3 separate regions of the Homo sapiens genome follow, and regions 2 and 3 are each linked to region 1. The links come from fine-mapping of genetic effects on gene expression. A gene starts in region 1. Each other region holds a variant in brackets. All regions are shown on one strand. Distances are between the middles of the regions.

Evidence for each region. PIP is the estimated chance that this variant, and not a neighbour inherited with it, causes the effect.
Region 2: its variant is the best candidate, but not a certain one, in a credible set for the expression of FAM234B in pancreas (GTEx, PIP 0.71).
Region 3: its variant is the best candidate, but not a certain one, in a credible set for the expression of FAM234B in unexposed skin (GTEx, PIP 0.79).

Annotation. Positions count from the first base shown.
Region 1 is chr12:13,043,234-13,045,998 of GRCh38, forward strand. It overlaps FAM234B (family with sequence similarity 234 member B), which reads left to right and starts at 1,148. Exons shown (of 13, transcript NM_020853.2): 1 at 1,148-1,207. The coding sequence starts at 1,171.
Region 2 is chr12:13,092,870-13,095,634 of GRCh38, forward strand. All of the region lies in intron 1 of GSG1 (germ cell associated 1), which reads right to left. Among named protein-coding and RNA genes, the nearest start is that of GSG1, 9.4 kb to the right of the region's middle. The variant GCTTAT/G (reference allele first, on the strand shown) is at 1,230.
Region 3 is chr12:13,009,241-13,012,005 of GRCh38, forward strand. All of the region lies in intron 2 of GPRC5D-AS1 (GPRC5D and HEBP1 antisense RNA 1), which reads left to right. Among named protein-coding and RNA genes, the nearest start is that of HEBP1, 10 kb to the left of the region's middle. The variant C/T (reference allele first, on the strand shown) is at 1,401.

The DNA of each region.
Region 1 (2,765 bases):
AAGAAGCAAGTCAGTTCTTCCTTCTACACCACTGTGCCTGGTCCTGAGGCAAGCCAAGTTCAGAAGTCAGAGAGGGCCTGGGTGTTTGCATTTTCCACAGTGACCTCAGTGGGTGTTTGGGCAGCAAAAGTATTCACATTCCACTCAGTAGCTAGAGAGGAACACACAGGTATTCTCTATGTAAAAGGTAAGGATCCTGATTCATTTGGCAGCTGCTTTGAATTTTTTTCTTTAATTGAAAAGAAAGTACATTAAATTTGAGAAATACTATTCTAAGCTGCAGTTCCTATGTTAAAATGGAAAAAAGTTATGGAGGGATGAAGGAGATTTCCAGAGGGACAAGGAAGACAAAGTGGGGGAAAGCTCAGGGAGCCAAGGAAGGAGGAATTCCTGGGCATCGGGCTCTCCGCAAAAATCATTCAGGCAAAGCTGGGGTGATTACGGGGAGCGTGCAGATGCCTTAAAGGTCAAGCATTGAAATCTGAGGAGCTGGAGATGCTGCATCTATTGGATGTATGTACACAGTCGGATCCTCCTTCTACACCCTTCAACTAGAAGCTGCAGCGTAGGGTGCTGAGTAGACACCTGTAAAGAACTGGGAGCAATAAATGAGGGTTCGAGCTCCAGGAAACTTCAACTTCTACCTAAGAAGCGTAATAGAAACACTCTTACTAGGTGCCTACTGTGTGCTGTGTGTTTTAAACAGGTCGTATCATTTAATTCTCATTGCAAGCTTGTGAAGTAGGTAGTATGTCTTTAATTAAAAAAAAGCAGCGGCAGCTCAGTCGCCCCAAGGGACTTGCCCAAGATGGCCCAGCTAGTAAGTGATTCAGGCAGGATTCAAATCCAGTCTGCCTGATTTCAAAGCCCACGCACATTGCACAATCCACACCTCCTTAAATATCTCCTTCGAATCATTTTCACTGCAAGCTTACGGGGTATTTTCTCCCCATTTCACTGACGAGGCAAGTGAGACTCAGAGTGGTGAGGTGACCTGCATAGGTAGGGTGGGAGAAAAGCCTGCGGAGCGTGTACTCTGGCTTGGCCTCCCTCAGCTCTGTCCCCAGCAAGCGGGTCCCACCTTTCCCGGTCCCAGCCCCACGCACCGCCGCTCGGAACTACACTTCCCGGCAGAACGCGGGCGCGCGCACGCGCACCGGGGCCTCAGCCATGGCGACCGTGCTGTCCAGGGCGCTCAAGCTGCCGGGTAAGGAGTCGCATGCTTGCGACCACCCAGTCCCCGCCGGTGTTGGAATAAGGGGAGGCGAGGCTCTGGGGGCGAGGCCGGTCGGGCCCTGGCCTCAACCCAGACTCAGCTGCAGGCGCCCGGTGCCGAGGAGGGTGCAGTCCCTTGGGGCTGGGGTCTCTGTGCCACCAGAGGGCGAGAGGGGCGCCCAGCGGGGCAGGGGTCTCGGGCGCGGGGCGAACCCGGAGACGCGCGGGGAGAGGGCGCCGAGCAGGTGTTACGGCGGGGAATGTCAGAACGCCGGTCGCCGCTGTCCCGAGGGGAGGCTGGCGAGAGGAGCATCCTTCCCGAGCGCCGCGGACCCAGCACCGCAGGGACTCCGGCGCCTTCTGTCTTGGCTGGACCTGGGCGGGGGCGGCGGGACGGCGAGTGGCCCTCTGTGGATCATCCCCTCCACCTAACGGCAGCAACGACGCATCCATGAGGCAGGTGGGACAGGTATTTACGTCCCTTCCTAGTTTACAGAAGAGAAAATGAGAGTTATTTGGCTAAGTGAATTGTCCAAGGTCTCACAAGTATTGGGAAAGCTCGGCCTTGAACGTCAGGGGTCTTTTCACTCTAAATCCTGAGCTTTTGATTCCACTTGGTCAGTCTCCAGCTGCCGAGATTAAGCATGGGAAATGATTTGGCACCTATAAGTTGAAGATAATGTATGGAATCTTCTTTAAGGCAGCATTAGGGGTGATGACAACTTCCAGAGCTGATTCAGTACTTCGGGCAGCAGCTCCAAGTTTTTTTTCCTTTTTTTTTTTTTTTCCTCCTAAACCTCCAGAGTAGGATTGTACTGTTAGAAAGTTGATATTTAAATAAAAGTATATTTATTCCACCCAAGTAAATTTTAAACATTAGGCTTTAGAAAAATTGATGGCTCTACCTAGGTAAGTTTTAAGCATTAAGCTATAAACATTTATTTGCTGATAATTTGTATTAGAGGGAAAAGCAGTTGCTTTCATAGCTATCTCTAGAGAGGGCTATTTGGGTTTTGGTTGGATAGCTAGTTTGAGCTTGCAGGGGGATTACAGGGTCCTTGTTCTCAAGGAGCTTCCAGTATGCTACCCTGAAGCGAACCTTGCCATTTGGATGACGCTAGGTTGGATATTAATTTGCGTTTCTGTCCCCAGACTTCATGACCTCAGACAGATTATTATTTTTTTTAATATGGGCTCATTGGAACATTGGAAGGAACACTGATAGCATCTGCCTTGGAATGTGTGCATAACACTGGAATTAAAGGAGAGACGTGGCCCTTTACCTGCAGGATTAATTTTTTACTTTTTTACTTTGTATATCCTTAGTGTAGAATGATGTCCTCCCAGAGGGGTAATAAGATGTCAGACATTTAGCTTTATTTCTTTTTTTTTTTTCTTTTAGAGTCCTTTTTTAAAATTTCAGTGTAGGTCATTGTTATTCTCTAAGAATGAGAATGCATGAAAATCTTGCTTTAGCAACTCTTGAGGTCTTTTGTGTTCTTATGCCCCAAGGCTGTGGTGTTATTACTCCCTGGAGTATTAGTTGTAGG
Region 2 (2,765 bases), 50 kb after region 1:
CAACCTCCAGTTCCCGGGTTCAAGAGATTCTCCTGCCTCAGCCTCCCGAGTAGCTGGGATTACAGGCGCCTGCCACCATGCCTGGCTAATTTTTTTTTGTATTTTTAGTAGAGACGGGGTTTCACCATATTGGCCAGGCTGGTCTTAAACTCCTGATCTTAGGTAATCTGCCCGCCTCGGCCTCCCAAAGTGCTGGGATTACAGGCGTTAAGCCACCACGCCTGGCCGGTTATATAAGCTTTTAACTTTATGTAAAATAACATTAATACATATAAATATATAATTATATAATTAATAATTGACAAGGCAATTGATAACTTCTGGAAAAGTTTTATGTAAAGTCTAAACTTTATATAAAAGTTTAGAAAAAAGAATTGGGAGCATTCCAAATGCTCTTTGTGATAATCGTTTTTGGCTTTGTCTTCACTGACAGGTAGTAGCACTGACTTGCTGAAGCATTTGCTATTGTAACAAAGTGAGCTATTGGTGTCCTTTTCCCTGCATTACAGATTCCTCTGAAAGGAGTCATAGCAATGAATATTAAACTGGAAATCTCCGGGGGAAGCAGATGGATGCTTTGGGGCCTGGAGGATAAAAGAGGGCAGTGAACCTACTGGGATGTGGGGCTATTGAAACCTTTGGAAAGGAGATGGGGCTTATGGTTCTGGGAGAGGTAGCAGTCGGGCCCAGCTTCCATCCACTGCCACAGAGACAATAGAGTTTCAAATGCGAGGTGGCTGTGTGGTGCCTGTGTAGGCTGGACACCAGGTTTGGTGTCCACAGAGCCATGGGTAGGGTGTCGGCAGCCAAGCCCTTGGTCAGTGGAGAGGAACCTGGAGGGCCGTGTCTTCCAGCCTGGTGCAGAAGTGCCTGCCTCACAGTGGGGACATAGGGGAGGCTGCCGAAAGAACTGAGGCCCCAGATGGCTCTGGCAGGAGCCCCTACTCTCCATGTCATTTTCAGCCTAAGAGAAGAGGAGGCAAGCTAAAATATGACTGGTATTAGACGGCCAACTTTGCTGAGTGGTGGCTTGGAGCCAGATTTAATTGGACTTAGAGAAGTAATTTGGCAAGTCTCTCACTTTGTGTTAGAGCAGTTTATACAGTTATATTAATGCACATGGAACAGAAAAGAAGCCCATGGTTAGTTGCTGACAGACGCTTCTTAAAGTAAACCTTCTTGAGCTTTCCAGGGGATCCTTCATATCAGAATTAATCACACTTAAATCT[GCTTAT/G]CTTAAGAGCCATAAATAAAACCATAGCTAAATGGACAGGTCCATAAATTTCCCTCCCTTATCACACCCAGCTTACTGTTTCTACATTTAAGAGAGAACTTTACCTGAGAAATGAAACAATTTGTTCTTCAGAATTTCCAGGGACTAAGACAGTGCATATCACAAAATGCTTATTATTTATGGCAATAAGAAATACACAAAGATCATATGTATGTAAAACCAATATGTAAAACATGATAAAGACAACTTCTGAAAAGCAATCTGCTAATATGATTTTACTTTTAAAGGCACTCAACAAATTAACTCTGCCAAGAATTGTCAGTTCTTGCAAGACTCTGGGTGACCTTGACTAAGGACAAAAAATCCGCAGCATCTGGGAGGAGGAAAGATTTTCTGTTGGTAGACACTGAAGTCGCGTGTTGCCCAGTTCCCCTTTCCTAAAATGTTTTCATCTTGGTTTTAGTTATGAAAATCCTATGGGTTTTAGTCATCATTCTCTTACTGTGAGTCATCCTTTCTAATAATTCTTACATTGCTTGAATAAGAAATGGACTTCCAGGTAAAACATCTTCACTAACTATTTGGTGTAAAGACTGACCTAAAGACTTAGGCAATTCTAACTTTTGTGACCTCAGCATTCATTTTTCAACAATCATTTTCATTCTGGTTTGGAAATTTGTCTATTATCACATCAGATTTTAACCCCACACTCAATCCATTTCAAGTTATACTTGCAAGATTTTTACTCCACATTCAATCCACTTCAAGTTATATATATTTGCAAGTTATTCTCGGGGTTATTCAGAAATAAGAAAGAATAACGAACCCCATACTAAGATACACCCACTTTGTGGCACCAAGGTGACAACCAATTTAAGGAAGAGGCAATTTGAGAAACAAAGAATAAAAAAGAGCTTGGACTGAAGCTCAAAGAGGTTCCTTCCAGAAGGAGTGTCCACCAGGGAGAGACACAAGGAACCTCATTCAAAAATCATCTTCTTGATATCGAATGATCATCTCATTCAAGAATTTTCAAGAATTATCTCCAACACCTATAGTACCATGCCCTTTGTCACATACTTTACTCCTTTCCCCAAACATGCCTTTTCCTGCTAGGGTCGGGATACCTCTTGAATTGGAAGAACAAATCTAATTTTGCAATGGTTTCCATAAAGTGATCCTGAAGAAGTAATGGCCATAAGAACAACTCTATCTTTGTGTATGCAACAGATCCCATGCCAAGGTGACTCTTTACTCGCTAGAAAAGGGACAGAGTGGTTTCTCTAACACTTGGGCCCTTAGATCATTAGGAAGTGCGTAGGCGCCAATGTATAATCAGTAACCCTTACATCAGCATATATTAACAGAGTAACCCAGAATTAGCATAGGCTAGGAAGGACAACAGATCGATGAGGCAGGTGCACTTCTTAAAAGAGCCAGGTACAAAATAGCTGTAGACTGCATCCTTTGAGCAATAGGAGGGGAAGCCGGTTACCTTGGCCATGGTCAGCGTCTTGCAGCTTGTCTGGAA
Region 3 (2,765 bases), 34 kb before region 1:
GTTGCACATGAGAGGATTTTCTTACTTTTTTATGGCTTAATAGGATTCCATTGTGTATATATACTACATTTTCTTTATCCATTCATCTGTTGATGAACACTTAGGTTGATTTCATATCTTGCCTACTTGAAGTACTGTTCATTAAGCAAAGCCAATAGCTTTGATTCAAGTCAAGTACTATGAATAGTGCTGCAATGAACATGGATGTGCTGATATCTCTTCAACACTGATTTCATTTTCTTCGAATGTATACCCAGAAGTGGGATTGTTGGATCACATGGTAGTTCTAATTTTAATTCCATGAGGAACCTCCATACTATTTTCCAAATACACAAAGGATGGAAATTAATGCTGTACTAATTTACATTCCCACCAGTGGTGTGCAAGGGTTCCTTTCTCCACATCCTTGCCAACACTGGTTGTCTTTTTTGTCTTTTTGATAATAACCTTTCTATGACGTAGGAGGTGACATCTCACTGTGGTTTTAACTGGCATTGCTCTGATGATTAGTGATGTTGAGCCTTTTTCATAAACCTGTTGGCCATTTGTGTCTTCTTTCGAGAAATGTCTAGTCAGGTCAGGTCCTTTGTCTATTTTTTTTTTTTTTTTGATACCGAGTCTCGCTCTGTTGCCCAGGCTGGAGTGCAGTGGTGTGATCTCAGTTCACTGTAACTTCCGCCTCCCGGGTTCAAGTGATTCTCCTGCCTCAGCCTCCGAGTATCTGGAATTACAGGTGCATACCATCATGCCCGGCTAATTTTTGTATTTTTAGTAGAGACAGGGTTTCACCACGTTGGCCAGGCTGGCCTTGAACTCTTGACCTCAGGTGTTCTGCCCGCCTTGGCCTCCCAAAATGCTGGGATTACAGGCGTGAGCTACTGCGCCTGGCCTGCCTGTAAATTTTTTTAAAATTTTTTATTTATTTTCATTTTTTGAGACAGTCTCGCTGTGTCACCCAGGCTGGAGTGCAGTGGCACAATCTCGGCTCACTGCAACCTCCACCTCCTGGGTTCAAGTGATTTTCCTGCCTCAGCCACTTGAGTAGCTGGGATTACAGGCATGCGCCACCATGCCTGGCTAATTTTTGTATTTTGAGTACAGACAGGTTTCACCATGTTAGCCAGGCTGATCTCGAACTCCGGGCCTCAAGTGATCTGCCCACCTTAGCCTCCCAAAGTGCGGAGATTTTAGGCGTGAGCGACTGCGCTCAGCCATATTTTAAAAATAAGATTATTTGTTGTATTGCTATTGAGTTATTTGAGTTCTTTATACATTTTTTGGTATTAACCCCTTATCAGATGTATAGTTTGCAAGTATTTTCCCCTCTTTTGTAGGCTGTCTCTTCACTCTGTTAATTGTTTGCCCTGCAGAAGCTTTTTAGTTTGATATAATCCCATTTG[C/T]CTATTTTGCTTTTGTTGCCTGTGCTTCCACCAGCATTTCTCATCCAGGACAGGGCTCCTCCCAGGGTGTCTGACTGTGGGCATGCTCCCCTCTTCAGGGTGGGCCCACCCTGAAGCACTCCCTGCCCACAGTGGCATGCTTTTTCTTCTGTCTCCCATCAGAACATAGGGTACCAGCAATATTTACTCACTAAGAAATTGTTTCCTTTCATCTTTCTTTCTAAATTATAAAATGAAAAGTCATCTTCTTTAATGTTCAACATTTCTAAATGTCTGATTTGTTTAAATTTATAAATAATTTATAGATTTAAATTTACTGATTTGTGTTAAATTTATTCACCACTGTTTATTTACTACCTACCCAAGTTCCCAGGTAGTCTACGGGGTTCTAAACTGTAGCAGTGAACAAAACAGACGAAAACCCCTGCTTTACTGGAGTTTACATTTCGGCGTGGGAGACAGGCAGTAAATAAACACATTCATAAATATGTAATAGGTCAGGTGGTGTGTGTTGAAGGCCAACGTATGTCAGTGTGGGCCACTTTAGATAGGGTGGTGACATTTCAACAGAGACTCCCCAAAAAGTGAGGGCATCACTGAGAAGATAGCTAGGGGAGAAGTTTTCAAGTCAGTCGGAAAGGCACGTGCAAAGGCCCTGAGGTGGGAGAATACCTGGCATGTTGAAGAAAGCAAGGAGGCCAGTGTGGCTGGAGTTTACTGAGAAGGAAGAAGGTTACAGGCAAGGGCTCCAGAACCAGGCTGCCTCGGTTCAAATCCCTGCTTACAAGTCGGGTGACCTTGGGCGACTTATTTACTCTCTCTTTGCCTCAGGGCTGTCATCTGAAAAATGGAAATAATGATAATGTGTACCTCAGAGGCTTGTTATGAGGATTAATAATTGCAAAGCACTTAGAACAGGGCCTGGCACATAGTAAGTGCTCTGTAAGTGAATCTTAACCTAAAAAAGGAGAAGAATGATGAAAAATCCAAATTGAAGCAACTATTTCAATATCATAAAATTACTAATCTATATTCTTTTAAAATGTCAATGTCTTAAAAGACAAGAAAAGGCTAAAGAATTGATTCAAATTAAACGAGACTAGAGAGACACTACAAGTAAATGTCATCTGTGATTATGGGCTGGACCCTGTGCCAAGAAAAAATACTCTAAAGAACATTAGTAGAATTAAATTGATTAAGTTAGCATACAGACTGTAGATTAGATAAAAGTATTATATCAATATTAAAGTTCCTGACATTGATAACTATATTGTGGTTGTGTAAGAGAATATCCTTGTTCTTAAGAAATACACACAGGGGTATTAAGGGGATAAGCGGACCTACTATCAAATGGTGTAGAGATAA